Linked DNA regions of Homo sapiens. The protein of the gene in region 3 purifies or fractionates together with the protein of the main gene of each other region. This does not show direct contact. Each region holds a gene or a part of one and is shown on either strand. Other genes may lie near its edges.

Region 1 (7,652 bases), on a different chromosome or scaffold from region 3:
ATTTTTGAATTACCTTGTCAATTTCCATGAATGGCTCTGCAGAGATTTTGTTTGGGATTGTATTGAATCTATAGATCAATTTGACACCTTAACAATTTTGAGTCTTTCAGTCATGAACATGGTACATCCTTTCATTTATTTTATGCTTTTAAATTTTCTCTCGATTATGCTTTGTAATTTTCAGTGTAGAGGCAATGCACAGCTTTCATTAGATACTCCTAATTATTTCACATTTATATTGATGCTACTGTAAATCGTATCTTTTAAAAATTTTTTTTCTATTTCTTTGTTGTTGACATACAGAAATACAATTTATATCTGTATATATACCTTGTATCTAGTGACTTTACAATGTTCAGTTATTCATTCAATTAGTATAGGTTCTTCAGGATCCACTATGTATAGAACCATATCATATGGGAAAAGTGACAGTTTTATTTTTTTCAAATTTTCCCTTAATAAACGGGTTATTTGATGGTACTATAAATGAAATTGTTTTCTTAATTTTTTCTTGGATTATTTTGGGCTGTTCCAAAAGTTTGCTGAATTTGTTTATTAATTCTATTAATTCTAATTTGTTTATTAATTCTAACATTTCGTGGGTATGTATGTGTGGGTAGTCCTTAAGGGTTTTTTTGGTAGAATTTTCTACATATATGTTATCTGCGAATAGAATCAATCTCTTTAATAGGTGTGAAATTATTCAGATTTTGTATTTCTGTGTCATTTTTGGTAAACTGGATTTTTCAAGGAAGTAGTCTATTTTGTCCACACGTCAAATTCATTTGCAAAAATTGATCATAGGATCTTCTTTCTTTCTTTCTTTTTTTGAGACGGAGTTTCGCTCTTGTTGCTCAGGCTGGAGTGCAGTGGCGCGATCTTGGCTCACGGCAACCTCCGCCTCCCGGGTTCAAGACCGTCTCCTGCCTCAGCCTCCCGAGTAGCTGGGATTACAGGCGTGCGCCACCACGCCCAGCTGATTTTTTGTATTTTTAGTAGAGGCAGGGTTTCTCCATGTTGGTCAAGCCGATCTCAAACTCCCGACCTCTGGTGATCCACCCGCCTCGGCCTCCCAAAGTGCTGGGATGACAGGCGTGAGCCACCGCGCCTGGCCGGATCTTATTGTTTTTAATACCTTCAGGATCTCTAGTGATGTTTCTTTTTTCATTAAAAAATTTGTTTAAAAATATTTTTAAATCTTCTTGCATCTGACCTTTTTCATTTTAACTTTGATTGTTCTTCCTTTCATTTGTTGGTCTTGAATGCTTAACAATTTTAAATTTTTTAAAATATATCCCCTTTGCCTTTGATTTCTTTATTGTACATTTATTTTCTACTTCCTTGATTTCTTCCCTTAGGATTTATTTCCTTTTACTTACTTTGGGTTTTGCTTATTATTCTTTTTCTAGTTTCATGAGATGGAAGCTTAATTGATTTTCAGTCTTCTTTTAAAAACATACGTACTTGGCCCACGCCTGTAATCCCAGCACTTTGGGAGGCCGAGGCGGGCGGATCACGAGGTCAGGAGATCGAGACCATCGTGGCTAACACGGTGAAACCCCGTCTCTACTAAAAAAAAAAAAAAAAAAAAGAATACAAAAAATTAGTCGGGCGTAGTGGCGGGCGCCTGTAGTCCCAGCTACTCGGGAGGCTGAGGCAGGAGAATGGCGTGAACCCGGGAGGCAGAGCTTGCAGTGAGCCGAGATCACACCACTGCACTCCAGCCTGGGCCACAGAGCCAGACTCCGTCTCAAAAACAAAACAAAACAAAAAAAAACACATATGTACTTTAGACTGTAATTTTTTTATTAAAAACAGCTTTAGCTGTATCCTACCAGTTTTGCTATGCCATATCTTTATTCTCATTCAGTTAGAAAATACTTTCTCATATTGTGATTTCTTCACGGATTCATGGGTTATTTAGCAGTGTACAATATCACTTAATCTCCATGCAACTTAATTCCACTATTGTCAGAAAAGTGTTCAGAATTATTTCAATCTTTTGAAATTGCTGGAGTTTACTTTATAATCCAGGGTACTGCCAGTTTTGGCAAATTCCTTACATTCTTTGTTCCAATATTGCTGCTGACTGTACGTACTGTCTCCAGAAGAAGAGGGCACATCCAAATTCTAAGGTCTAAGCTAGGAAGTGATACATATCACCTGCTCACATTCTACTGGCAAGAGTATATTCACATATCCACATTTAATGCTTACTGCTAGGGGCTTAATGCTAGGGTGGAGGCAAAGCTGAATTTTCGGAACAGATTCTCCCCCTATAAGACAGCAAGACAGTGGCAAGCTGTCCCACACAGATAGTGTTCCATCAGATTGGTCTGATTTGGACCAGTTTCCTACGTTTTACCAGTCGCTGTGGCAAAAGGGATAGAGAGTAATCCTGTTGGACCAAGCCTGGATATTCATTTCCTTTATCAATAACAGACACTGTTAATCCCACAAGAGCCACAAAAAATGGGTTCCAAGGGGGTCAGGCGCTGCGGCTCATGCCTGTAATCCCAGCACTTTGGGAGACCAAGGCGGGCAGATCACTTGAGGTCAGGAGTTGGGAGATCAGTCTGGCCAATATGGTGAAACCCTGTCTCTACCAAAAATATAAAAAGTAGCCAGGCATAGTGGCCTGTGCCTGTAGTCCCAGCTACTCAGGAGGGTGAGGCAGGAGAATCTCTTGAAACCCGGAGGTGGAAGTTGCCGTGAGCTGAGATCACGCCATTGCACTCCAGCCTGGGCGACAGTGCAAGACTCCCTAACAGACACACACACACACACACACACACACACACACACACGTTCCAAGGAGGAAAGATGAGTTACCTTACAAAGAAAAGGGAATAAGCTGGGTGTGGTGGCTCACGCCTGTAATCCCAACAGTTTGGGAGGCTGAGGTGGGAGGATGGCTTGAGTTGAGGAGTTCGAGACCAGCCTGGGCAATATGGTGAGACCCTGTCTCAAAAAAAAGTGGGGTGGGGAATAAGTAGTACCGTACAGAACCTACAGCTAAAAGAAACAAAAATGGTGCTCGCTACAAAAAGTGAGAAAAAGGAAAAAGGTAGCTTCTGGATTTGGAAATTCAAAGGTCACTGGTGTTCCTAATGAGATCCACGGTTGTGGAGTGGCAGAGAGAAGCCACCTGTGGCACAGGAGTCGTCAGTAGGAGTCGCAGGAGGAATTGATGCAGCATGGTGGGAGTGGACGTCACTTTCAAGGTGATCAGCCGTGAAGAGCGGCAAACACAGCGTCTTGGCTCGAGTTCCCCCAAACGGTGCCCCCTGGAACAAGAATTTGAGCACGAGTACAGTAGTTTTTTTGGGAGGTGATCCCAGGAAACATCGGTAGTCAGGGAAAGGAAGGAAGCCAACAGAAGATGCCCTGATGAGCAAGTTGCAGCTGTGGACAACCGCAGCCGTGGCCTACAGAGGACCACCGCAATACGCCTAGGACACACGCCTCCCCGCAGGGCACGTGCGGAGGGCGAGAGGGCCAGGGCATTCTCGACCAACTCTATCCCTCGTGGAGGGAGAGCAGCTGGGAAGGAGTGCAAGCACCCAGCACCTCTAAGTCTGCCCCATTTCTGCTCTGAGCGGGCTCTCCACAGCCAGCGGTTGCCTGCAGGTGGAGCCGGTGCGCAAGACAGGCGAGTGAGCGCCTGGCGGCCCCGTGGAATCTGGGCAACGATGGGAAGGAGAAGGGCGCTTTTACAATGTGCTCGGGTAGATACCGTGAGCATCGGGGGACAGGAAGGGGAGAGGCCCCAGGGTGTTCTTTATCTACAGGAGAGTAAAAGATGCAAGGCGCAGGGCTGATGTGGGTAATTTATGAGGGACTGTAGGAAGTTTGGGGGAGCTCTGATGATCATTGCCTTCTCTTTGTATCTCAAATGCAGCAGCACAGTCTTCAGAGTGGGCTATCAGAACCGAAGGGACTTTTAAGAGCCACTCTCCGCCGCTCATAAGGGGAAATCGAGGTCCGGAGAAGGGAAAGCAAGTGGCTGAATGCCGGTAAAAGGCAGGAAAAGAGCGGAGCCCAGGGCTCCAGGGGGTCGGTTTGGGACCTGCTTCCACCAGCAGAGTCTAAGGTCATCCCCTTGGCCGTGCGCCACCCTGGGCTCAGCCGAAGGAAGGAGCACTCGACACAAACAAAACCGACGCTCCGGGTCTCCGTAGTCGTTAAGCAAAGAGGAAGAGGAAGCGCTTCTTCATTAGGCCACAGGACCGGGCCTTAGAACTTTTGGGTTTTATCCATTAAAGGTCCTTTGGCAATAGAAGAAAAACCCAGATCGAGCCCTGCAAACTGGGATCTTCCGCCGGCACCGCCCCCCGGCTGCGACCCGGGGCTCGGAAAGAACCACCCCAGGCCCGGGCTCCGGTTCCACCGCACAGTCCGCCCGCTGCGGTAAAGCCGCGCCCACCGCCGCGGGTCTCCAACCCTGCGCCGCCGCCGCCCCCGGGGGAGGGTACGGAAAGGGCGCGGCGCCGCCGCCCACGGGCTCCTCCAGAGCGCGGCGGGGCCGGGCCGCGCGGAATCACGGGACAGAGGCGGGGCCGCGCCGGCGGGGGCGGGCGTGCGAGCGGCGCTTTCCTCTCCGGCACCCGGCGGGCGCCCGGGCGCGGCGCCGCCGGCACCCGAGAGGCGCGGTAGCCGGCGCGGGCGGCGGGGGCCGGGCCGCGGCGGGCGCCCGGGCGGGGTCCGCGCTGAGCCGCCTTCTCGGCCGCCTGGTCCCTGCGGCGGCTGCCCGGCGGCCCGGGCGCGCGGCGCTTCGCCATGTACACCTTCGTGGTACGCGATGAGAACAGCAGCGTCTACGCCGAGGTCTCCCGGCTGCTCCTCGCCACCGGCCACTGGAAGAGGCTGCGGCGAGACAACCCCAGATTCAACCTGATGCTGGGAGAGAGGAATCGGCTGCCCTTCGGGAGACTGGGTGAGCCCCTCCCCGATTCCCGTCTGCCCTCCTCGGAGCGGCCCTGCGCGCCTCCCGCGGCCCGTTAGAACCGGCGCTTTTGTTTTTAAAGGTCATACATTTTCTCCTCTGTCGCTTGTCGGGCACATCAGAAACGGATTCGGAAAGATCGAAACCTGTCGTTTTTAATGCTTTCTTGTCTCCTAACTTGGATTTAGAGTCGGAGTCGCGGTGCGGCCACTCGGGGCCGCAGCTACCTCCCGACGGTGACCGGTCCCTGCAGCCCGGGAGACGCTGGCCGCCGGGGCTGGGACCTGAGGCGCGAGTCTAGCGGCTCCCCCGGGCCGAAGCCCCCAGATTTGGCGGGTCCGCCGCGCTGGGCGCGGCTCCGCAGAGCGGGCGGCTGGAGTCATCTTTTGCAGCTCGTCTGCACTGAGGATTTCTCCCTGCTTGGCGTGGGCGCGGGCGGGGGAGCCGTAGGTGTTGAAACCCCTGAGGCTTCTGCCCCCCGAAGGCGCGGAGGAGCGATCAGAGGATTTGGAAAAGACCCCCGGATTCCAAAAGCAGGAGCTGCAGAAGAGACCCTAGCCCAGGGAAGTGTGGAGGGATGTCTGATTATAAACCTTTCCTTAGTTTCACCAAATAATGTGTTTTCGCAGTTCTGCATTGGATTAAGATCTTACACGAGGCTGCGTTCGCCCTCCCTGTCTTCCCTGCTCTCCCCGAGGGAATTACCTTCATCCACATGGTTGAAGCTGGCTGGGCACCACCATACCCACATGTCCACGGGTAGGAAAGCGCAGGAGATAGGAGGGGACTAGCGGCTCCTTTGTAAGTGATGTCATCCAGAAGTTGCCCAGATCGGTTCAACTCACATCCTATTGACCTGAGCATAGTCTCATGGCCTCCCTCTCTGCACAGTCATCTGGGAATTGCATCTTCTCTCCGGGGAGCCATGTTCCTTGCCAGAATTCACCAGAGGTGGGGGCCAATTGTATTCCAAAGACAAGGGGAGAATCGATACGGAGGAAGAGTCACCTCTACCTTGGAGGGCAACCCAGAGAGAGCAATGTTCTATGTCCAGGAGAGAAAACAGTTTTTAGAAATAGGTGTGGTCAGAATTCAAATGGGTAAAAACTGAATACGGGCCATTTGGAATTGACTGGTCATTTATGAGCTTCCATAGACAGAGCCTTTGGGAGGGGGCTGTGTAAAACTCAAATCGTTGGAGGAATGAAGAGCTGCAGTGTAAAGTTGCTGGATTTTCTTCTTTTGAATAGTACCTGGGACAACTTTTCATTGGTATACAAGTTTATGATGTAGAATGGTGACTCCATGGAAGGACCCATTTGAACACCCAGAAATCTTAGAATATGGAGACTGTGCCTGGAGGCTCCCTTTGGTTAACCGGTGTCAGGAAGACCCTAGCAAAGAGAATTCATGATCTGAAAGGAGAGGAAGAATTGCTTATAGTTGAGAACAATTATTTGTTCCTTGCATTGTCCACTTCCCCTTCCAGACTTCCTGACTTCCCTCTATATTCTTGGCAGTGCCTAGCTGTGAAAGCTTAGGTGGAATCATAACATTAAAAACAACAAACATGGCTCCGCCCAGGCAGAGGTAGGAGTGACTGGCATTACCCTGGTGCTTAAGCCTAGGAGTGAGAAGCAGAAGCCTCCAGAATTTGAATCCTGAACAGATACCACAAATTCAGGAGATGATCAGTAAACGTTTGAGCTTTTTGTTTGTATGTGTTTTTTTTTTTTTTTGTAGTTTTGTTTTTTGTTTGTCTGTTTGTTTTGCGACAGAGTCTCACTCTGTCGCCCAGGCTGGAGTGCAGTGGTGCAATTTTGGCTCACTGCAACCTCTCCCTCCTGGGTTCAAGCAATTCTCCTGCCTCAGCCTCCCAAGTAGCTGGGATTACAGGCGCGCATCACCATGCCCAGCTAATTTTTTGTATTTTTGGTAGAGACAAGGTTTTGCCGTGTTGGTCAGGCTGGTCTCGAACTCCTGACCTCAGGTGATCCGCCCACTTCGTCCTCCCAAAGTGCTGGGATTACAGGCATGAACCACCGTGCCCGGCCAACATTTGGTTTTTATGGGAAAGAAAACAGCATCCTACAACAAAATTGGTTATATGCCATCACTGTTAAGGGATATTTACCTTTTGCTTAAAGTGTACTACATGAAAGCCAAGGAGAAGATTTATAGAGCTAGGTAAAGGCTCAGGAAGGCAGGTGCCCTGTGGATAAGAATGTAGGCAGTTCAGGTGGGAATCAGGTCTGTCTGCTCAGGGAGACCAGTGAGAGCCAGCTAATGCCTGCCTGAAACTTTTGATTTGACTGTATGCCATTCTCAGAGAAATTATTCTTTCTTCTGGCATTTTCAACTGAAAATTCCTTTGGTCTTACTTTGATTTTGTTACTGGAAATACAGTGTGTTTTATTAAGATTTGAAACAAAACATTTTTTATTTTATTTTATTTTTGAGATGAAGTCTTGCTCTGTCGCCCAGGCTGGAGTGCAGTGGTGGGATCTTGGCTCACTGCAACCTCTGCCTCCCAGGTTCAAGTGATTCTCATGCCTCAGCCTCCCAAGTAGCTAGAATTACCGGTGTGCGCCACCACGCCCAGCTAGTTTTTGTGTTTTTAGTAGAGATGGGGTTTTGCCATGTTGGCCAAGCTGGTCTTGAACTCCTGATCTCAGGTGACTTACCCACCTCAGCCTCCCAGAGTGCT
Region 2 (7,268 bases), on a different chromosome or scaffold from region 3:
ATAATCCAGATCACTGAGGTACAGCATGCAATTGACCAGCTTAAGAGAAAACTAGATACTGACAAAATGAAACTCATAGTAGAAGTTAAGGTAATTTACATTTTTCCTAATCAGATTATTATAACATTTATCTTGAAATAAAATATTTTGGTGTTTTAACTTTGGGTGTCAATAATATAAGGGTAGCCAGGATTGACTGTATTAAAATTGTTACCTTAACAGTAAAGAGCATAGGTGAAAAAAAAAATGCAGGAAGAAAAACTAAACCTGTGAAAAGATACATGATATAATAAAGCCAAAGTAAAATTTAGTAAAATTTTACTAGGAAGAATTAAAGGAAAAGGAACCTGTGAGTCAATATATTCTCAAAAAAAATTTTAAGTAGTTTTCCTGTATTAGAATTATTAAGTCTGATAAACCACTGAGCTCTCCTCTGAACTGACATTTAATTTTTTATGGGTAATCGTTTCATTTTTTCTGGTTATTTTCATATGTATTCTATTATTTAAATATGAATAATGTGTCTTCTACTAGATGTTAAGTTTCCTTCCTGGCAGAGACTATGCCTTAGTTAACTTTGTTTCTCCCATGGGACCTTTTGTATAGCAGATGCTTAGTAGAGGCTTCTGGGCATGCTCTATTTGGTGAGAATTGTGTACAACTAATTACATCATAGAAATTATCTGTGAAGTACATATGTATTAAAAAGCTTTTTTGTTGAACAGAAAACAGAAGATTATACATTTTCATACAAGTACCCACAGCAAGGCAGGAAAATGAGAACGATAATTATATGAATGCTCTCATTTCTTTATCAGAAACAGCTTTATGACACAGAATAATGACTGCATTCTAGAATTAGCTCTTTTTAAAAAAATTTTAAAAAGAAAAAAGAAAATCAGTACTGTCCTCGGTTTCAGATAAAAATAAAAATAAATAAAATTTAAAAATAAAAAAATAGAATTAGCACTGTCCAACAGAACTTATGTGATGATAGAAATGTTCTATGCCTGCACTGTCAGATTGGTACCCACTAGCCACCTATTGATATTGAGCACTTGAAATGTAGTTTGTGTGACTGAGGAACTGAATTTTAAATTTTATTTAATTTTAGTTAATTTAAGTTTAGTAGTTACATATGGCAACTGGCTTCTACTATACTGGACAGTGCAGTTCTAGATTCTTTTTACAAGCAGCATTCTCGAGGCTAAATAAGCCCTGGTTTGGCACTGAGAAGCTTAAAACTTAAAATAGAAAAGGAAAAGAGCAGAGGATAATTTTTAACAAAATATCAGTTAAATATGCACTCAAAAAATAATTTGTTCAATGAAGGAAAACTGTCTATTCAATATATGGAGATAAAGCCAATATGTAAACTTGTACACTTAATAATTGGGTAGGTAGGAAGGAGTAATAAAAATGCCCCCAGAGGCTTGGATTATGACTCCCCTCATGCTGTTTTCTTCTGGAAAGCATGCACATTACTTGTAATCTTTGTATATTTTAACATTACAAATGTCACTCATGGTTTGAACTCAAATTAGAATTGTTCATACAAAAACAGTAAGGACAAGTGGAATAAGAGGAAAAAAAGAGAACAAAGTTTTCAGCTTATAGGCTGGGGGGAAAAAATCCTGTATTTAACCATAGTGCCTGATTGACACATAACAGACATTATTTAAGAAGTTTTATTGATTTCTGAATGATCTCCCCAAAACAGCACTACCTATAAGATTCAGAACTAAGGGACAAAAAAAACCCAGCCTGAGTCTCTTGCAACCATATTTATTCAAGATAGTATAGCATAAGTAGTGCTTCTCAAAGTTTAATATATCATCTGAGGATCCTGTTTAAAAATGCAGGATCTGACTCAGTAGGTCTGGGTGCAGCCTGAGATTCTTCCTACCTAACAAGCTCCCAACTGATGCTAATGCTGCTGTCCACAGACAACACTTGGAATAGTAAGGGCTCTGGTACCAGGTGGTTTGAATTTGAATCCTGGCTGTACCCACTTCACTTACTAGTTTTTTATCTTGAGCAAGTTACTTAGCCTCTAAAGGTCTCCATTTCAACTGTAAAATGGGGATAAATACTAGTATCTGATTCTGTAAAATTTTTGAAAAAAAAATAAGAGACTAATACACTTAGAAGAGTGCTTGCCACAGAGTAAACACTATATTTCTGAAATATCTATTCCGTTCCTAAGGGCTAGGAATTAAGGGTTTTTTTTGTATTTTGTTTTCTTGTTGTTTTCACTATTTTCTTTACACATTGAGAACAACAGGTTTTGAAGTTTAAGCAAAACATAAAATTCTTTCTCACTCTAGTTTTTAGAACAGTTCAATTGTATTGTCCCTATCTACTCATAAACAAGGTTACCTTATAGCATATCTCACCAGTAGATAAGCATGCTTATTAAACAGCATTCATAATCTACACATTTACTGTAGTAATCCAGTGGGAGTTGAAAGCACTGAAGCCAAATGAGAGAAGACAGTTAAAGCGGTTACAAAAACCCTGTTTACATGACAACTATGATGTACTTTTAGAAGGGTATGATGAAGTTCATTTTTGAAAAGTAATTCTTTTTATAGATGAGAAAACAAGCAGTTTCAGATTTACGAACATTGAAAACTGAACTGGCACAGAAAAAAAAAATAATACATCTCTACAATCTCAATTAGGTATGTTAATTTAAAACTTTTATTTGTAAAAAAATTTAAATATGTATTTGAACAGATTTGTTTAACCATTATTCTCCTTGGCAATGTTTTATAAAAAGCACAAGGTTTCTCTTTCTCCACTTTCCATGTGGGTATTACAAAATGTTTCAGGAAATATTAGATGTAATATAAAGCAAAATGATGAATGGTTATTTTTAACATTCCAAGTCCTTTACATATTATTTTACAGTGCTAATTTTATAATTTTCATTTTAATAATTTAATAATAAAATTCAATAATAATTTATTTAACAATTTAAGAGCTAATATAACTAAAATCTATTTGCAAAGAATAAATGTATATTAATGAATACTAATATATTTGCATGAAAATACAGACTTCATTTAACTTAATTTGTTCATTATATCTTAATTAAAAGAAATCTGGAAATATAAAAGAATGGGGGTATTGAAGTTGCATTCTGAGCTATGATAGAGATAAGCATCTAAGAATTTAAATTTTTTAATTCATTTATTTTAGAAATATGAAGACAACAGTGATCCAACATATACTATGAAAATGGTTTTTACTCTGTCACAAACAATTGTGTAAATAGGAAATGTAATATTCTCATAACAGATGGTTCAATCATCATGTATTCCAATTTACAGGGGCAAAATGTGCAGGGAAGCCAGGATTTATGTAAATCTAGAGTTCAAAGATACAGATTTTTAATCTGTAATTAGGAACTAATAAGGGCAGCACAATGTTGTTCTTAATTCCCTGGAGAAAGAAAACAGACTTTATTACATTTAGAAAACTTATTTGTATAAAATTGATCTTTTAGAAAGAGAACTAGTTGAGAAGCTAATCAGTGTCTTTAGATCATTAAAAGCACAATGCAGCTCATGCCTGTAATCCCAGCTCTTTAGGAAGCCAAGGCAGGAGGAGTGCTTGAGCCCAGGAGTTGGAGACCCATCTGGACAACATAGCGAGACCCTGTCTCTACAAAAAATAAAAATAAAAAAGATACATTGCAGATGTAGAAAGAAAAATTTAACCATGTAAGCAAGCTAGCCAAGAAATAAATTATATATGTCCATAAATGAAGAAATGAATAATTAGAAGTGTGACAGTGAACAGAATCAAGTTCAACTGCAAGTTATTCCTATTATTAAAAATTTTACAAATGAGCCTCATAAAAATAATGTAGTTGGAAAATATTAGGTAGTTCTAACTTACCAATTCAAAATATTACTGTTACATTCTTCTATTTTGTGAATACATTTAATCTTCTGGATTCTTTTTAATTCTCACTCACTGTCCAAAGATTTAGTTCAAGTACCTCAGAGAACATAAATACTATATGGAGTCAGGAAGCAGAAAAATTATTTTCATCAGTTTGATGAACCTAAAGGGGAGACACTACATTGTAGGTTTTAAATTTAAGATTTATTGGAGGGTTGGGGGAAAAGTATAGCACAAACTGCTTTTCAAAGACTAGGTTTTTAAAAACTCTAAGCAAACAATTTCCACTTCAGATTATACATATTTTAAAAATCAGCATTGATTCGTGAGCATATATTTTACTATAATGAAGGGAAATATGGCATAATAAAATTCTGAAAGCAATTTTTCCCAATTAAATTATAGTGTTGAAACATCTAATAGAGGAATATTTAATAGGTAAGTTGACTTGCTTCTTGCCTTTATGTTCCTGGATACTGAGGACATTCGTGTGTATTTTTCAAATTCAAACAATCAAAACATTTATTTATTCTTTTTTTTTAGTATACGGATAACAAAAGTATATAGCAACATAATAAAAATGCAAGAAACTAGATCTGTTGATACAGATCATCTTTCTAACTCTTAATGGTTTGACAAAAGATGTTCATCTCTGTAACAGCTTTGGCTTTAAGACTTCCCACATTTCTTCAGTTTGCTGTTTGGCTACAGCATCTCCAGAGTAGTCAAGACAGTTTGCATTCCACATGCCAATGCCCCGTAAGCGATAGTTTTGTATATATGTTGCCTTTAAAGAAATACTCTGAGGGTTATCATACCATACTTGATGAAAGTGGCCAGCAGGATCCTATATAAATAAATTAAAATGGAGATTTTAAAGTATTTAGTACAATTCAGCACCACAGGAAAGGGAAAAATAAAAGAAGTATACAGTACAGTAAGAGGGAAAAAAGTTTCCTAAATCCAATTATTCAAAAAGGATACAATGAAATAAAAATTTTAGGGCATAACACTTTCCTATTCTATAATTCCATGGTTCTATATTTGATACAAATGGTCCCTGACTTACAATGGTTCAACTTACAATTTTTAGACTTTACGATGGATTTATCAGGGTATTTCGTTCATTTTCAACTTATCATATGTTTATGGGTTTATTAGGACACAATACAATCATAAATCAAGGAACATCTGTACTTTCTAGGTATTATTGCTTATGGCACTTTTAACAATGGCAAAGATTACAGAAACGAGCCTCCTAATAGATTCTACTTGAGCTCCTTTTCATGTCCTAAGATTCTTTCCTTGCCCTTAGCCAGTGATTATTAGCCAAGGCGTACATCTGAATCACTTGCGGAGCTTTTAAAATACAGATTCCTGGGTCCCACACCACATGAAACCTATTGAATCAGAATTCTCCAGGGTTAATGCTAGGGCATATATTTGTTTTGTGTTTTAATGTTTCATTAGATAATGCTGGTATGCAACCAAAGTTAAGGGGAATCAATGCTCTGGTCCTCTAAAACCAGCTTATGTGCTTTTTTGTATTCTCTGTAGTTGCTAGAAGTGTGCCTGGCTAGGAGGTCTACAGAAGATTTTGTTTATGATGAATCAGCCAAGTCAAAAGGTAATGGCAATGGAGGAGAAAAGTACATCCTTTTCTAGGTCTTACAGATACATTCTCAGAGTCTGTTAGGTCTGCACTTTATTGGTGACTTAACATACACCTGATTATGAGCCATAAATTAGATTCTGGTCTTATGTTCACCTTCCACCCTAAAAAGTCCTTCTGCCCAGAATCAACTACCTCTATCTAGTACTAACACAGTCTCTCTCAGGCAGCACATGAGCTATTGGATAAGAGACAAAGGAAAAGGGAAAGGAGCAGATCTAGGACAAAGTGCAAAGGAAGGTGAAAAAGATAGGAGATAAAAAATAGAAAGACCTGTGACTAAAAATAATTTACTTATTTTTATATACATCTAGGAAACTCCTTAAAGGCATTTCTGAATTAATGCCAGTAATATTTACAGCAGCACTCCTGGAATTAGAATAGTCTCTTAAGATGACCACTTTGGGGCCGGGCACGGTGTCTCAGGCCTGTAATACCAGCACTTTGGGAGGCCGAGGCAGGCAGATCATGAGGTCGAGAGATCGAGACCATCCTAGCCAACATGGTGAAACCCCATCTTTACTAAAATACAAAAAAATTAGCTGGGCTTGGTGGTGCATGCCTGTAGTCCCAGCTACTCTCGAGGCTGAGGCAGGAGAATTGCTTGAACCCAGGAGACGGAGGTTGCAGTAAGCTGAGATCACGCCACTGCACTCCAGCCTGGAGACAGAGCAAGACTCCGTCTCAAAAAAAAAAAAAAAAAAGACCACTTTGAAGGAAAATAATTCACCTGGTAAATGAATACACTGCGGCATATTTAAATATGGTAGACTAATTGTAATCAAGCATATCTCAGTCTGTATCTTATATTCCATTCTTTAACATTTTTAGAACTAGACAAAGCCATGCATGCCCTAGTAATAGTTGTGATTCATTATTAAAAGGCAACTTGTAGAACTTGTACTTAAATATGACAGATTATTGAAGATTCAGGGGCAAACCCAAAGACATATACCTTTGAATTTTGCCATCATTCTAGCTAGTACTTTGAGCCTTTTTGATATTATTAAGAAATTCAAATGTCTCAAAATTGTAAAGGAACAAAGGGCAAAAACTAAGCACATGTAAGACTAATTTATGCATGGTTAAGGCATATTTGCTTTCCAGAATATTGAGTCCAAGATGAGCTGCTATTGCTGAAACAGCCCAATAGAGTGATTCTCTTCAAATAAGACAGAAACTTGATTCATGTTGCTACAGAATTTTGCAATTAATAAAAAAGAGGGGGCCAGGCGCGATGGCTTACGCCTGTAATCCCAGCATTTTGGGAGGCCAAGATGGGTGAATCACCTGAGGTCAGGAGTTCAAGACCAGCCTGGCCAACATGGTGAAACCCTGCCTCTACTACAAATACAAAAATTAGCTGGGTGTGGTGATGCATGCCTGTAATCCCAGCTACTCAGGACGCTGAGGCAGGAGAATTGCTTGAACCTGGGAGGCGGAGGGCGCAGTCAGCCGAGATCGTGCCACTGCACTCCAGCCTGGGCGAAAAGAACAAAACTCCATCTCAAAAAAAAAAAAAAAAAAAAGAAAAAAAAAAAAAGAAGGAGGCTGGGCGCGGTGGCTCACACCTATAATCCCAGCCCTTTGGGAGGCCGAGATGGGCAGATCATGAGGTCAGGAGATCGAGACCATCCTGGCTAACACAGTGAAACCCCGTCTCTATTAAAAAAATACAAAAAAA
Region 3 (7,268 bases):
GCCTGGCCAACATGGCGAAACCCCATCTCTACTAAAAATACAAAAATTAGCCAGGCATGGTGGCGGGCACCTGTAATCTCAGCTACTTAGGAGTTTGAGACAGTAGAATCACTTGAACCCAGGAGGCGGAGGTTGCAGTGAGCCAAGATCACGCCACTGCACTCCAGCCTGGGCAACAGAGACTCTGTCTCAAAAATAAATAAATAAATAAAAAACTAATAAAATAAAAGCTTGGCCTGAGAACTTTTTCTATCACTGACCCATATCCTTTTCCCAGTATATTTTCTTCTTCTTTTTTTTTTTTTTTTTTTGAGACAGGGTCTTGCTCTGTTGCCCAAGCTGGAAGGCAGTGGTGTAATAGCTCACTGTAACCAAAACTTCTTGGGCTCAAGTGATCCTCCTGTCTCAGCCTCCCAAGTAGCTGGGATTATACGGCACATCACCAGGCCTGGCTAATTTTTATTTATATTTATTTTTTTTTATTTTTGAGATGGAGTCTCAATTCTGTCACCCAGGCTGGAGTGCAGTGGTGCGATCTCGGCTCACTGCAACCTTCGCCTCCTAGGTTCAAGTGATTCTCCTGCCTCAGCCTCCCGAGTAGCTGGGATTACAGGCACCTGCCACTACGCCCAGCTAATTTTTTGTATTTTCAGTAGAGATGGGGTTTCACCATGTTGGCCTGGCTGGTCTCGAACTCCTGACCTTGTGATTCACCCACCTCGGCCTCCCAAAGTGCTGGGGTTACAGGTGTGAGCCACCATGACCGGCCGCTAACTTTTACTTTTTTGTGTGTAGATGCAGTCTTGCTATGTTGCCCAAGCTCATCTTGAACTCCTGGCTTTGAGCACTCTTCCTGCCTTGTCTCTCAAAGTGTGGGGATTACAGCCATGAGCCCCCTTGCCTGAACTATTTTAATTCTTCAATCTCTTTTACATACTGAGATCATGAGTATGTTTGTGTTTTGAATGCTTGCCAGCAGTGAAGATAAACCTGGTGATTTAATTGTAATCTGTAATAACAGATCCTGGACAAGGAATAAACTTGCTATTGGGGTTAGCACTGCTGTGCTGGAGATGCAGGCAGAGATGAGCTGTAACATCCATCTAGAGTCTGTCACTGAATTTAAGGAGTGGTGAGGACCAGAGGGATTGTTTGGGGCAATATTTCTACTTTATGGGCTCAGAAAAGTCATGTGACTATTTTTCAGTGGTGCACAACCATGTCTGTGGGAGAACCTGCCTCCAAACAGGCCCACTGGGCTTTGAAATGCCTCACATGCTTCCATGGGGACATGGTGGGAAAACGAATGAGCCTGTGGACTCCTGCCCAGGACAAAGCTCAGCCTGTGGCCAAGGAGAAGCTAACTTTTGTAATATGGTTAATATTTCTACTTTAGATAAGGACTGGAGGATACACTGATAATAATAACCGTGGGCCTGCCATTGGGTTACTTACAAGCCCTGTCTTGTTAAAAATCACAGGTAATGGCTGTTGTTGATATTGTGTGGAAACATCATGGGAAGACTTGGTCTCTCAACCTGTACTGTCATCAGGACCCTCTTGATTTCCCAACTGCAGACCATGTGCTGCAGCCCTTGTCCATTCATACAAAGCACACAAACCAGATACCACTGGGTGTTGGCTCAAAGATTACAGGTCAAGGTCAAGATTTTCTTTGTTTTTTTTTTTTGAGACAGAGTCTCACTCTGTCACCCAGGCTGGAGTGCAATGGCACAATCTCGTCTCACTGCAACCTCCGCCTCCCAGGTTCAAGCCATTCTCCTGCCTCAGCCTCCCGAGTAGCAAGGATTACAGGCGCCCACCACCATGCTCGGCTAATTTTTTGTATTTTTAGTAGGGACGGGGTTTCACTATGCTGGCCAGGCTGGTCTCGATCTCCTGACCTCATGATCCGCCTGCCTCGGCCTCCCAAAGTGCTGGGATTACAGGTGTGAGCCACCGCACCCAGCTTTTTTTTTTTTTTTTTTTTTTAAGACAGAGTTTCGCTCTTGTTGCCCAGGCTGGAGTGCAATGGCGCGATCTTGGCACACCAGAGCCTCCGCCTCCTGGGTCAAGCGATTCTCCTGCCTCAGACTTCCCGAGTAGCTGGGATTACACACATGCACCACCACGTGCGGCTAATTTTGTATTTTTAGTTGGGATGGTTTCTTTTTTTTTTTTTTTTGAGATGAAGTCTTGCTCTGTCGCCCAGGCTGGAGTGTAGTGGCACGATCTCAGCTCACTGCAACCTCCGACTCCCGGGTTCAAGCAATTCTCTTGTCTCTGCCTCCTGAGTAGCTGGAATTACAGGCACACACCACCATGCCTGGCTAATTTTTGTATTTTTAGTAGAGACGCGGTTTCACCTTGGCCTCCCAAAGTGCTGGGATTACAGGCATGAGCCACTGTGCCTGGCCGAGATGGGGTTTCTCCATGTTGGTCAGGCTGGTCTGGAACTCCCAACCTCAGGTGATCTGCCCGCCTCAGCCTCCCAAACTGCTAGGATTACAGGTGTGAGCCACCACACCCGGCCTTACAGGTCAGGATTTTCTTCATTATTTCTCCCAACAAGCCTGCATTTCCCAGCCTGTGCTGATCCAGATTCCTGGGGCCTCATGCCTTCCTGCACTCCTTTGACGGCCTCTGAGAGACTAGGTCACCCTTCTTAGACCTGTGGGCCTTGCTTATTTTCCAAATGGTACTGACATTCAACCTCAATATTTGCTGAATTTCTCTTGCTTCCTGGTACTGGCGTCTCTTAGCCAACACCATTCCATTGCTCCAGGATTAGGAAAATGTTACTGTAATACACATTTGGCTTAGTTAACTCATAACGATAAGTGATTTAAATGCACACTTAACAAAGAGTCTGTGATTGAAACAAAGACACCTAACTTCTCAGGTAAAAAATTTATATATATGTGTGTGTGTGTGTGTGTGTGTGTGTGTGTGTGTGTGTGTGTGTGTGTGTTCCCATACATAAATTTGACATTTAGTTTTTTTTGTTTGTTTTTTGGTTTTTTTTGGCTCTGTCGCCCAGGCTGGAGTGCAGTGGCATGATCTTGGCTCACTGCAACCTCCGCCTCCCGGGTTCACACGACTTGCCTGCCTCAGCCTCCCAAGTAGCTGGGACTGCAGGCATGTGCCACCACAGCCAGACCGACATTTAGTTTTTACAAAGCTGTGTTTTTAAAATTTAATCATACATGTAATAGATTAATACAGCCTCTTTTAAAAAGACAGAATATTACACAAATATTTATACCAGCATTATTCGTAACAGCCAATGAGTGGAAATGACTATATAGACATTTGGAAATGACCAAATGTCTATCTCTTGATAAATGGATAAACAAAATGTGGTATATCCATATAGCAGAATATTATTCCACCACAAAAAGGAATATGTATTGACTTATGCTAAAATATGGATGAACCTTGAAAACATTATGCAAAATGAAGAAGCCAGACACAAAAGATTGATATGAAATGTTCAAACTAGGCAAATCCATTCGGACAGAAAGTAGATTAGTGGTTGTCAATGGTTGGACAGAGCTGAGAATGGGAAATAACTGCTAATTCGTAAAGGGTTTCATTTTTTTTTTTTTTTTTTTTTTTTTTGAGACAGGGTCTCACTCTGTTGCCCAGGCTGGAGTGCAGTGGCGCAATCTTGGCCCACTGCAACCTCCACCTCCTGGGTTCAAGTGATTCTCCTGCCTCAGCCTCCCAAGTAGCTGAGATTACTCAGCCTGCCAACATGCCCAACTAATTTTTGTACTTTTAGTAGAGACAGCATTTCACCATGTTGGCCAGGCTGGTCTCGAATTCCTGACCTCAAGTGATCTGCCTGCCTCAGCATCCCAAACTGCTGAGATTACAGGCATGAGCCACCACACCCAGCCAATATAGGGTTTCTTTTTGGGGTGATAAAACTGTTGTGGAATTTGAGTGGTGCTGATTGCAAAACTCTGTAACTATACTAAAATTCACTGAATTGTACACTTTAAAAGGGTGGGTTTATTATATGTGAATGAGATCTCAATTAAAAAGAGTACATCTGGGCCGGATGCAGTGGCTCATGCCTGTAATACCAGCACTTTGGGAGGCTGAGGTAGGTGGATCACCTGAGGTCAGGAGTTCGAGACCAGCCTGGCCTAAATGGGGAAACCCTGCCTCTACTAAAAATACAAAAATTAGCCGGGTGTGCACCTATAGTCCCATCTACTCAGGAAGCTGAGGCAGGAGAATCGCGTAACCTGGGAGGCAAAGGTTGCAGTGAGCCGAGATTGCACCACTGCACTCCCGTCTGGGTGACAGAGCAAGACTCCATCTCAAAAAAAAAAAAAAAAAAGAGTACATCTGATTAAAAAATGGCACAGGTGGCCAGGCACGGTGGCTCACGCCTGTAATCCCAGCACTTTGGGAGGCTAAGGCGGGTGGATCATAAGGTCAGGAGTTTGAGACCAGCCTAACCACCATGGTGAAACCCCGTCTCTACTAAAAATACAAAATTAGCTGGGCATGGTGGCGCATGCCTGAATCCCAGCTACTTGGGAGGCCGAGGTGGGAGAATCGCTTCAACCCGGGAGGCAGAGGTTGCAGTGAGCCGAGATCGCGCCATGGCACTCCAGCCTGGGCAACAAGAGCAAAACTCCATCTCAAAAAAATAAAATAAAATAAAAATTAAAAAATGGCACAGGTTATAAGGCATTCCTATTTCAATATTCCTATTTCAAAATGTGAAAAATGTGGGGGGTGCGGAAGAGCACTACGAAAAAGCTTAAGCCTCTGTAACTACCATATCTACTCCTGGTTTTCCTCTTTGTCATAATCACAGCTACCTGTCTGATGTGTGTGTCCAGCAGCTCACATTTGTAGCATATCTCATATCTGCTTGCTTTTTTTTTTTTTTTTGGAGACATGGTCTCACTCTGTCCTTCAGGCTGGAGTGTAGTGACAAAATCACAGCTCACTGCAAACTCCACCTCCTGGGTTCAGGCAATCCTTGCACCTCAGCCTCCTGCTGGGTCTACAGGTGCATGCCACCATGCCCGGCTAATTTTTATATTTTTTGTAGAGACAGGGTTTCACCATGTTGTCCAGGCTGGTCTTGCATGCCTGGGCTCAAGCGATCTGCCCACCTTGGCCTCTTAAAGTGTTGGGATTACAGGCATAAGCCACTGCGCCTGGCCATTTCTGCTCTCTACTCTTACTCAGTGGGCGCTCTGCCTTTGGGCCTGGGGTGCTAACTGCTGGGCTCTGGCTTAGCAGGGGAATGCAATGCCCCTGGTGGCTTCCCTACATTCCCTTTCTGAATAAACCTTTGTGAATTATCCTAGTTTGAATGTGCTATCTGTCTCCTTTGGGACCCTGACTGACTCAGTATCTATCTTAGGCAAATTCGTATTTTACTTAAGTAAGAAAATAAAATATGGGTAAGCACAGAGTGAAAAAAAAAAAAGAAGAAATACTGTTTAATAATTGAAGACAAAAGATATTAAGTTACATAATTTGAATTGTCATCTTGACTAGACACCTTGAGGATCTCAAATGCTTTCCTAGACACAGAAAGCAGATGTAAATGGTTATAAATTTTTTTAAAAGCCAGATTTTGGGGGCCAGGCGTGGTGGCTCCCACCTGAATCCCAGCACTTTGGGAGGCCGAGGCAGGTGGATCCCGAGGTCAGGAGATCAAGATCATCCTGGCTAACACGGTGAAACCCCATCTCTACTAAAAATACAAAAAAATTAGCTGGGCGTGGTGGCAGGCGCCTTAGTCCCAGCTACTCGGGAGGCTGAGGCAGGAGAATGGCATGAACTCGGGAGGTGGAGCTTGCAGTGAGCCAAGATCACGCCACTGCACTCCAGCCTGGGTGACAGAGTGAGATTCTAGCCTTAAAAAAAAAAAAAAGCCAGATTTTATGCCAAATGCGGTGGCTCATGACTGTAATCCCAGCACTCTGGGAGGCCAAGGCAGGTGGATCACTTGAGGCCACTCTTGGCCAACATGGCAAAACCGCGTCTCCACTAAAAATAGAAAAAAATTAGCTACGTGTGGTGGCATGTGCCTGTAATCCCAGCTACTCGGGAGGCTGAGGCAGGAGAATTGCTTGAACCCAGGAGGTGGAGGTTGCAGCAAGCCAAGATTGTGCCACTGCACTCCAGCCTGGCAACAGAACAAGACTCTGTCTCACAGAAAAAAAAAAAAAAAAAAAAAAAAGCCAGATTTTATTCATCCTCTAGATTTCAGTGCTCCTCCTAGGCAGCTGCACATACTAACCTGTCGGCTTTCCGAATGATGTGGCAATCTGCTCATCACTGCATCCAGCTCATCAAACTTCCTCAGGACAGCCTGAACTTCTGCAGACAGCTCTTTGTACTCTGAAAACTGGTCTTGGAACACAGCTTTATAGCGTTCTCGCTCATCATCTGTCTGAATCACAGGGTATTTTCTAGGGGAAAAACATAAGCCAAAGATATAATTGTTTCACTAAAAGAAGCTGAATGGGAAATCAGCTTATCTTATTCCTTACTGATCATATTGTACCTTCAATTCAATACATTACCTCTCAGATAACAACTATTTACATACACGATTTTAAGCACAGAGTATTAACTTGGAGACAAACTGGAAAATGAAAGGACCAAATGGGGCCCCTCAACTTCTACCTTGAGGAAGAATTCAGACTGACACTCACGCCACATAGTCGGGCATCACGATAGGTTTAGGAATGTGGCCTGGGGGGATGTGTCCACTCAGTAGTTCAGGTTTCATTTTTGCTGTTCTCAGTTCCTTGAAATTAACTTCTGAGTCTCTTTGTCTGTCACCACTGGTGGCCATTTCACACTGCAGTTAGGGAGAAAAAGAGGATTTGTTAATAAACATAAGTAGAAAAAAACCCTCTGAATTCATTCTTAGAAAATGAGGAAGAAGATCAGGTGGGGTGGCTCAAACCTGTAATCCTAGCACTTTGGGAGGACAAAGCCGGAGGATCACATGAGGCCAGGAGTTCAAGACCAGCCTGGCCAACATGGCAAGACCCTGTCTCTATAAAAAGTTTAAGGCCAGGCACAGTGGCTCACGCCTGTAATCCCAGCACTTTGGGAAACCGAGGTGGGCTGACCACTTGAGATCAGGAGTTTGAAACCAGCCTGGCCAACATGGTAAAACCCCATCTCTATTAAAAATACAAAAATTAGCTGGGAGTGGTGGCGGGTGCCTATAATCCCAGCTCCTCGGGAGGCTGAGGCAGGAGAATCACTTGGGC
Region 4 (7,268 bases), on a different chromosome or scaffold from region 3:
GCTTCTGCCTGGGAGAGGCGCCATGTCACTCTTGGGCCCTTAGAGCTCAGCACTTTGTCACAGCCACACGCCTGGAAGCCCCAGCCTGAGTATTCAAGCCAGGCGGCCCCACCTGCTTTGGTCACTGCACGGGGTGTGAGCCTGCACCACCTCTGTCTGGGGCCTCTGTGCCTGGCTTTGTGCGAGGCGCCCTCCCCCTTCCACCTGGTTGCATCTTCACAGCGACTCTGAGGTGGGGGTGGTGTTCAGGGAGGTGTCGCACTCGGCCTGAGGCACAGCCTGTAAGAACCATTGCCAGGATTCAAGTCTGTATCTGATGCCAAACTCTGTGTGTGGGTGCCATGAGGAGGGGTGGTTCTCCTCTGACCCACGGGTGCTGGCAAGTGGGGGTGCCAGCTTCTGGGGTATTTGACCTCAGCAGACACGCTTCTCACAGTGCCCACCTGTGGGAAGGGTAAGGATGATGGCCATAGGAAATCATGTTTGAACCACAGAAATATTCCAGTTCATTCTAATAACTCTGCTCTTCCTCAGAAATGACTGCTGAGTACGCCTGCACAAGGAAACAGTTTAACAAGAGGCTCAGTGAATTTGGATTGATTCAGGTACCAATGGTTGAGTACTGTATTTGTGCATTTCACTGTGTGACATGAACGGTGTGTTCTTTTGATGTCTCTGTACTGGTGACTTCTGTGGTGATTTGGGAAGAAGACTAGTTAAGGCTTTATTTGACACGGGTCACTGGGCTTGCTTCTCTTGGGCATTGAGGCTTCTGACTTAATTACTTTCTCTCCTGTTTCACAGATTTGGCTCTCAGCACATGCAAATTGTTTCTTGTGTTTTTTCTGAACACTCCAGGAGAAATTTGCACTGATGGCTCAGAAGGCTTACGTCATGGAGAGTATGACCTACCTCACAGCAGGGATGCTGGACCAACCTGGCTTTCCCGACTGCTCCATCGAGGCAGCCATGGTGAAGGTAACCCTGGCATAGCCAGAGAGCTGGCGCTGGAGGGAGGCTTGGGAAATCTCCCTCACTGTGACCTTTCAAGCCCATGCTGTTGCCTGTCATCTTCCTCCTGTCATTGATCCAGTATTTATGATGCACTTGCCCTGTGTAGCACTCCAGGGATAGGCAGGCAGCGGGGAGCAGCAGTAGGGAAGTGTCCAGTGGGCCAGTGGATCAGTAGTTTATAGCAGAAGGAGACCGTTATGATAATATCCTTTTAGAGTAATAACATTGCATCTGGCTTGTGTGAGAAAGACTTCTTTTTTCCTTAGTTTATGGCCTTCCTACTTTCTGGTATCAAAACTTTATCTTAAAAACTAAGCATATGGCAGGGCGCGGTGGCTCACACCTGTAATCCCAGCACTTTGGGGGGCCGAGGTGGATGGATCACCTGAGGTCTGGAGTTCGAGACCAGCCTGGCCAACATGGTAAAACCCCATCTCTACTAAAAACACAAAAAATTAGCCGGGCATAGTGGCGGGCACCTGTAACCCCAGCTACTTGGGAAGCTGAGGCAAGAGAATCACTTGAACCCGGTGGGGGCGGAGGTTGCAGTGAGCCGAGGTTGTGCCATTGCACACCAGCCTAGGCAACAAGAGCAAAACTCCATCTCAAAAAAAAACAAAAAACAAAAAACATGTATGAGCCTGGGCAACATGGCGAAACCCCATCTCTACAAAAAATACAAAAATTAGCTGGCATGGTGGCACACGCCTATAGTCCCTGCTACCTGGGAGGCTGAGGTGGGAAGAGCATCTTATTTGGTTAAGGTAGATACTAGAATTTGCTTTTGTTTTGTTGAGGGTGGAGGGTGTCATTTTTTAGCTGTAATAAAAAAGATGGCCACACTTGGGGGGACCCTACTTTGTGCCCCCCACAATTGTTTTTAAGCTGGTCTCTGGAATTGAGCTCTTGAGAGAAATAGTGAGAGGTATGGCAGCTTACAGAAGCAAACATCCTGGTGTCGGCAGGAGAGTCTACCTAAAAGGTTGGGATCCTGAAGTGGCAAGGTCCCTAAAAAAATAAAAAATTAAAAACAAAAAGGCTGGGCATCTTGGACCGTGTTTGAGTCTTTTCTAGGTGCAGTCTGTGTACTGGGTGCATTTGCATGTGTTTTATCATCTCGTTTTCTTGTCACCCTTGAACAGTGACCACAGACATTAGTTTGCTGTAGGCCAGCCTCTTCCAGATGCTAAGCCTAGGGCTAAACATGGCAGTATGTTTGCCCCCAAGGCACTTATAGTGTGCACAGACAGAAAGAAATCACGGCCGCTGGGGCTTGGCAGGAACAGGTCAGGTTTTCTCGGGAAGGGGAGATCTTAGGTGGGTTTTAAAGGAACAGGAGCTCAGCCAGGTGCAGATAGGGTGAAGGCAGGCCCAGAGGTACAGAAGGTCATGGTGGGGTAGGGAACACAAGCTGGCCAGTGTGGTCACGGAAGGCAAAGGACTTGACCACATCACCCCTCAAGTTCCTCCCTGGCCGATCTCCTCCCCAAGCCCGTGTGCCTCCCATGCCTCCCCAGCCACCCAGCTCCCTGCAGCGTAGGTCCTCCTTTTGGAAAGGATTCAGTGTGACACCCCACAGGTGTTCAGCTCCGAGGCCGCCTGGCAGTGTGTGAGTGAGGCGCTGCAGATCCTCGGGGGCTTGGGCTACACAAGGGACTATCCGTACGAGCGCATACTGCGTGACACCCGCATCCTCCTCATCTTCGAGGTGAGTGGCCCCGCCACCAGCTAAGCTGTGCTCCACCCCCACCCTGCCTGGTCCTAAAGATGCTGCTCAGGGCCTCGCAGAGGCCCCCGCAGCCCAGGGCTGGGTCGCATGCTCTCAGGGGCTCTCCTAGCCCTGGCACGTCTCCTTCCCGACTGCTGCCCTCCATGAAGTCACAAGCCTGAGGAGTCAGTTCAGTTAGCATGTGCCAGGTGGCAGGGGAGGGAACTGGGGCCACAGAGATGACTTCGGATGCTGTGTTCTGATTGTGCAGCAGGGCCGACCAAGGGAGATGACAGAGTGTAAAGAGGCAGGGAGCGGGCATCCTCCAGAGGCAGCCAGAGTTTTGTGAAGCATGCGCTCCTGGCCCCTAGGGGCAGAAAGAAAGGGCTTCAACCAGGGCCGGGTGGAGGGCAGTTTGTCCCTAAGGGCAGGGTAATAGAGCGCGCCAGGCCCAGATGGGACTGATCTGCTGGCACAAGGTGAATGAAGAGAGAGTGAAGGGCTTTCTGGGAGCAGCAGTCAGCCCTGCTAGGTGGGCTGGGGCAGGCAGTGGGTTTGGGGGTGTTGAAGAAGGTATATGGGAAGGCTAAAAAAGTAGCCAGACTGTGGAGGACCTTGATTGACAGCAGAGGAATTTGGAAGCCACAAAACGTCTTTAAGCAGGGCATTATTTGGTTGTATCTGTGTTGTGGGAAATGCCCCCAGGGGCTCAGCAAGTGCTGGACATGTGGACGGGGCTCATGTGGAGAGTGAGTTGCAGGGATGAGGCCGGAGACCAGGGGCTCTCCTGCTGGGAGGGAGGGGCTGGACCTAAGAGAGCACAGCAGGATGAGTGGGATATGATGGTGGGCATGGGTATACAGGAGGCAGGCCTGAGACAGGGAGAGGGTTTGGGCCTGAGCAGCAGGTCTGGTGATGAGAGGCATCATCAGCCTCTGGGAGTGTAGTCTTGTCTCCTGGGCCGTCCTGCCCAGTGGGAGGCCTCCTTGGCTGCTTTTGTTCCTGGCCTACCCATTGGGTTCCAGCCATCTCCACTGTTGCAGTGGACATACGGGGCAAGGGCCAGCCTGAGGGCACTGGAGTGGTCTCAGCCCTGCAAAGGGTCTTCTCCAAAGGCCCTTCCCTTAGCCTGGGAGGGTTGGGGTTCTCCAGGGCTGGGGTGGTCAGCAGGGTTCAGGAAGCCCTCAAGGCCTTGGAAGAACACAGGGCTCTCGATGTAGGGTGAGAGCTCCTGTCTGGAGCCTGCTCGGAGCTGGGTGGTCCTGCCAGGAGGCCCCTGCAGTCCCCCCTTTTCCTGTAGGGAGTCCTGCTGTCCGTGATGTCAGCCTGACTGCAGGGGACAGTCCTCAGTCCCTAGTGCTGGCTGTGTAGCCTGGGTCAGGCCCCTGCACCTGACACACAGTACCATTGTGCAGAGTGGGCAGAAGCCCACTGGCCTCTCACTGATCAGAATCATGGGTTGGGGGAGTGGGGAGCATGTGGCCCTCTGGGTGTGTTGACACCTGGCACTGAGGAGGTTCTAGCTGCCACTCAGCAATTTCTGGCTTCCGTGAGGAATCTGGCCTCCACCTGGAGCCAGCAATGTCTGTCTGGCACTGGCTGAGCCCCAGGCATCAGCACCCCTCACCACCCGGGGAAAGCTGGTTTCCATTTTACAGAGGACCTGGAGACTTGGAGAAAGGCTTGACACACGTGAGGCTGGTCACGGAGAGGTGGGGGGGTCCCAGTGGGAGCTCATGGCCATCTGGTCACCTCCCTCCTCATCCCTGTGCACTCCCTGAGCCCTGGCCAGAGCCCTGCTCCCAGCTACTTCAGGAGCAGTGGCTTTTGTGGCAATGGGCAAGCAGGCAGTGGCCGGCTCTACCCAGCACACGTGGCACTACCATGGCTGCCTGGCCGGGGGGCAGCCTTTGACCTCTACACTACTGACCACAGGGAACCAATGAGATTCTCCGGATGTACATCGCCCTGACGGGTCTGCAGCATGCCGGCCGCATCCTGACTACCAGGATCCAGTAGGTGCCATTGTCACCGTGTGCTTCTCAGGTCCCATACCTGCCCAGCAGGGGCCAGTCCAGGGCAGTGGGAGGAAAGAGCTGCCTTGACCTGGAGTGGGGGCATGGGGGTGTGGCGCAGCCTTGTGGAGGGGACCTTCCCCTGTGGTAGTGGGGGGCTTGCTGCCCAGGGAAGCCCTCGCTGCCCTGCCCTTATGGCCACAGCACCCTACAGCTTCAGCATAAATACCGTATCCCCCATCTGGTCCCTCACACTAGAGGCAGCTGGTTTTTCAGAACCTGAAGAATGAGAGGTGTCCCTTTAAAGGTGCCAGGCCTCACAGCCAACATAAGCCAGTGTTTCTCTTCTCTGCCCTTCTTCCCCTCATGCTCCCCTCCACCCCCACCCTAGGGGCACAGTAATCCAAAATCACTGCTGGAGGCCAAGTACAGGTTGCTAGTAGCATTTTGTCTCCTTCACAGGAGACAGCTGCTGGGAAGCTGGCTGTGACTCCACCCCTCATGGGGGAGCATATGTGTGGCTCCCCTGAGGAGACTGGCTGCTCTCTGGCAGGTGGTGGGTTTGGGGGGGTTCAGGCTGTAGCCAGGGGCCCAGCATACCCAGGCCAGAGGGGGGCACGGAGCTTCTGGGTGCCGAATGGGCCATGTTGCTGGACAGTGAGCGCCAGCAGCGAGGCCTCCAGTCACAGGACCATGGACTTTCTGCAGTGAGCTTAAACAGGCCAAAGTGAGCACAGTCATGGATACCGTTGGCCGGAGGCTTCGGGACTCCCTGGGCCGAACTGTGGACCTGGGGCTGACAGGCAACCATGGAGTTGTGCACCCCAGTCTTGCGGTGAGTGGGCCTAACAGGCATACCCCCTATTTCAATGCCCTCCTGCCAGATCTCCTTGTGGCAGAAAAGATCTCACTGTGGGGGGTCTGGGCTTCTCCAGGGGAAGTTGGGGAACACCAGCTAGTCCATGACACCCTGGATTGCTTCCCCCAGATGGGGCATCTCTGCCTGGTACCCGGGCTGTGAGACAGGACAGGGCACTGTAGGGATGAGGTGCTGAACTGAGTCCTGTCTTGGTTAATAGGACAGTGCCAACAAGTTTGAGGAGAACACCTACTGCTTCGGCCGGACCGTGGAGACACTGCTGCTCCGCTTTGGCAAGGTAACCAGGCCCTCCCAGGCCTGGGTCGCAAGCGGTCCTCCAATTTGGCCAGCATTCATGAGACTACTTTTTGTCAAGCATCCTTTGGGACCAGGCCTAGAACAGAAATGTTGATCACCCTGGAGGGATGGGGTGGTGAGGTCAGGCTGACTTTGTCAGCCTGGGGCCCACTTAGCTACTCGGATGGGTACCCTTGCTGGGTGAGTTTTCTGCAGTGTTTTTCTGTGCACCTTTCAGGTAGAGAGGCTCCCTAGAATCGGGAGGGCAGCTCCACCTGGGGCCTGAATCTAGGGACCTGATTGGTGGGGCCCTTGCTGCTGAAGGTGGCAGTAGCACAGTAAGCACTGGCTTCTGGTCTCAGCCAAGCTTCTGGGACCTGGTCTTGCCTTAACCCCTCCCTGAATCTAGAGCTCAAAGAGAAGGGAAAACAGAAGGTGGCTGGGAGCCGTTCTCCCACAACCTGAAGAGAAAGGTGTTATTGACTCCACTTTCTCAAGGAACACAGGAGACTAAGACAGGCAAAGATGCAGCCCAGGGAGGGACCATGTGGGGGACTGGTCTAGGTAGTGAGTCCCCACTTGGAGCCTCTGTGATCCCAGACCATCATGGAGGAGCAGCTGGTACTGAAGCGGGTGGCCAACATCCTCATCAACCTGTATGGCATGACGGCCGTGCTGTCGCGGGCCAGCCGCTCCATCCGCATTGGGCTCCGCAACCACGACCACGAGGTGAGCCCAGCCCAGCCTCACACAGGGCCTGGCTGCTGCCATCTGTCCTGCTGCACTTTAATGAAGTTGATTGTTGAGGAGGGTGTGGTCGGGTGTGGGGGAGGCTGTGCAGGTTCACCATGCGGTGGCCGTGGGAGGGTCTGTGCTGCTCAGGAGATGGGGCTGTTCCCTTTCTTCTTCCTGACTGAGAGAAGAGGGGGTGAGTGACAGGGGTTCCTGATCCCAGTGCCCCTACCCCCAGCAAGGGACAGACCCTGCACATTGCCCGCTGTGCTGGAGGGAGGCGGGTGCAGTCTCTGAGGACCCACTGTATACCAGGATCTCTGCCTGCACTTTCCAGAGCACCTGCAGATACCAGGATTGTGACATCTGCCTTTCAGAGGAAACAGGGTCAGAGATGTTGAGTCACTTGCTGTTGGGGAAAGGCTGTTGGATCAGGGCTGGAATTAGAACCCAAGACGGGGTGACTCCTGTGCCAGGCCTTGTGACCCCTGCCATGCTACCCAGTTTGGCTGATAGGCTGGGTTTTTGAAGCTCAGAGGTCTGATTCCAGGAATTTGGGCATATCTTTTCTGTCCTCGGTTCTGGCAGGTTCTCTTGGCCAACACCTTCTGCGTGGAAGCTTACTTGCAGAATCTCTTCAGCC

Evidence for each region.
Region 1: the proteins of MARVELD2 (region 3) and TTL purify together in Homo sapiens (affinity purification with mass spectrometry; 2 studies listed by BioGRID and IntAct, with this or other methods). This does not show direct contact.
Region 2: the proteins of MARVELD2 (region 3) and CTBS purify together in Homo sapiens (affinity purification with mass spectrometry; 2 studies listed by BioGRID and IntAct, with this or other methods). This does not show direct contact.
Region 4: the proteins of MARVELD2 (region 3) and ACAD9 purify together in Homo sapiens (affinity purification with mass spectrometry; 2 studies listed by BioGRID and IntAct, with this or other methods). This does not show direct contact.

The regions. Positions count from the first base shown.
Region 1 is NC_000002.12:112,477,566-112,485,217, forward strand, and holds the start of TTL (tubulin--tyrosine ligase), read left to right. Parts: upstream 1-4,590; 5' UTR 4,591-4,779; coding exon 4,780-4,936; intron 4,937-7,652. UniProt on the Homo sapiens protein: Catalyzes the post-translational addition of a tyrosine to the C-terminal end of detyrosinated alpha-tubulin.
Region 2 is NC_000001.11:84,550,441-84,557,708, forward strand, and holds part of CTBS (di-N-acetylchitobiase precursor), read right to left. Parts: intron 6,056-7,268; exon of another isoform or gene 5,540-6,055; coding exon of another isoform or gene 5,470-5,539; intron 4,760-5,469; coding exon 4,559-4,759; 3' UTR 2,685-4,558; coding exon of another isoform or gene 2,595-2,684; 3' UTR 91-2,594; coding exon of another isoform or gene 1-90. Other genes in the region: SPATA1 (spermatogenesis-associated protein 1), read left to right, coding at 1-90, 2,595-2,684. UniProt on the Homo sapiens protein: Involved in the degradation of asparagine-linked glycoproteins. Hydrolyze of N-acetyl-beta-D-glucosamine (1-4)N-acetylglucosamine chitobiose core from the reducing end of the bond, it requires prior cleavage by glycosylasparaginase.
Region 3 is NC_000005.10:69,432,106-69,439,373, reverse strand, and holds part of MARVELD2 (MARVEL domain-containing protein 2), read right to left. Parts: intron 6,848-7,268; coding exon 6,699-6,847; intron 6,453-6,698; coding exon 6,281-6,452; intron 1-6,280. UniProt on the Homo sapiens protein: Plays a role in the formation of tricellular tight junctions and of epithelial barriers.
Region 4 is NC_000003.12:128,903,528-128,910,795, forward strand, and holds part of ACAD9 (complex I assembly factor ACAD9, mitochondrial), read left to right. Parts: intron 1-534; coding exon 535-605; intron 606-858; coding exon 859-978; intron 979-2,593; coding exon 2,594-2,722; intron 2,723-4,657; coding exon 4,658-4,737; intron 4,738-5,445; coding exon 5,446-5,572; intron 5,573-5,816; coding exon 5,817-5,894; intron 5,895-6,345; exon of another isoform or gene 6,346-6,493; coding exon 6,494-6,622; exon of another isoform or gene 6,623-6,736; coding exon of another isoform or gene 6,737-6,806; intron 6,807-7,213; coding exon 7,214-7,268. UniProt on the Homo sapiens protein: As part of the MCIA complex, primarily participates in the assembly of the mitochondrial complex I and therefore plays a role in oxidative phosphorylation.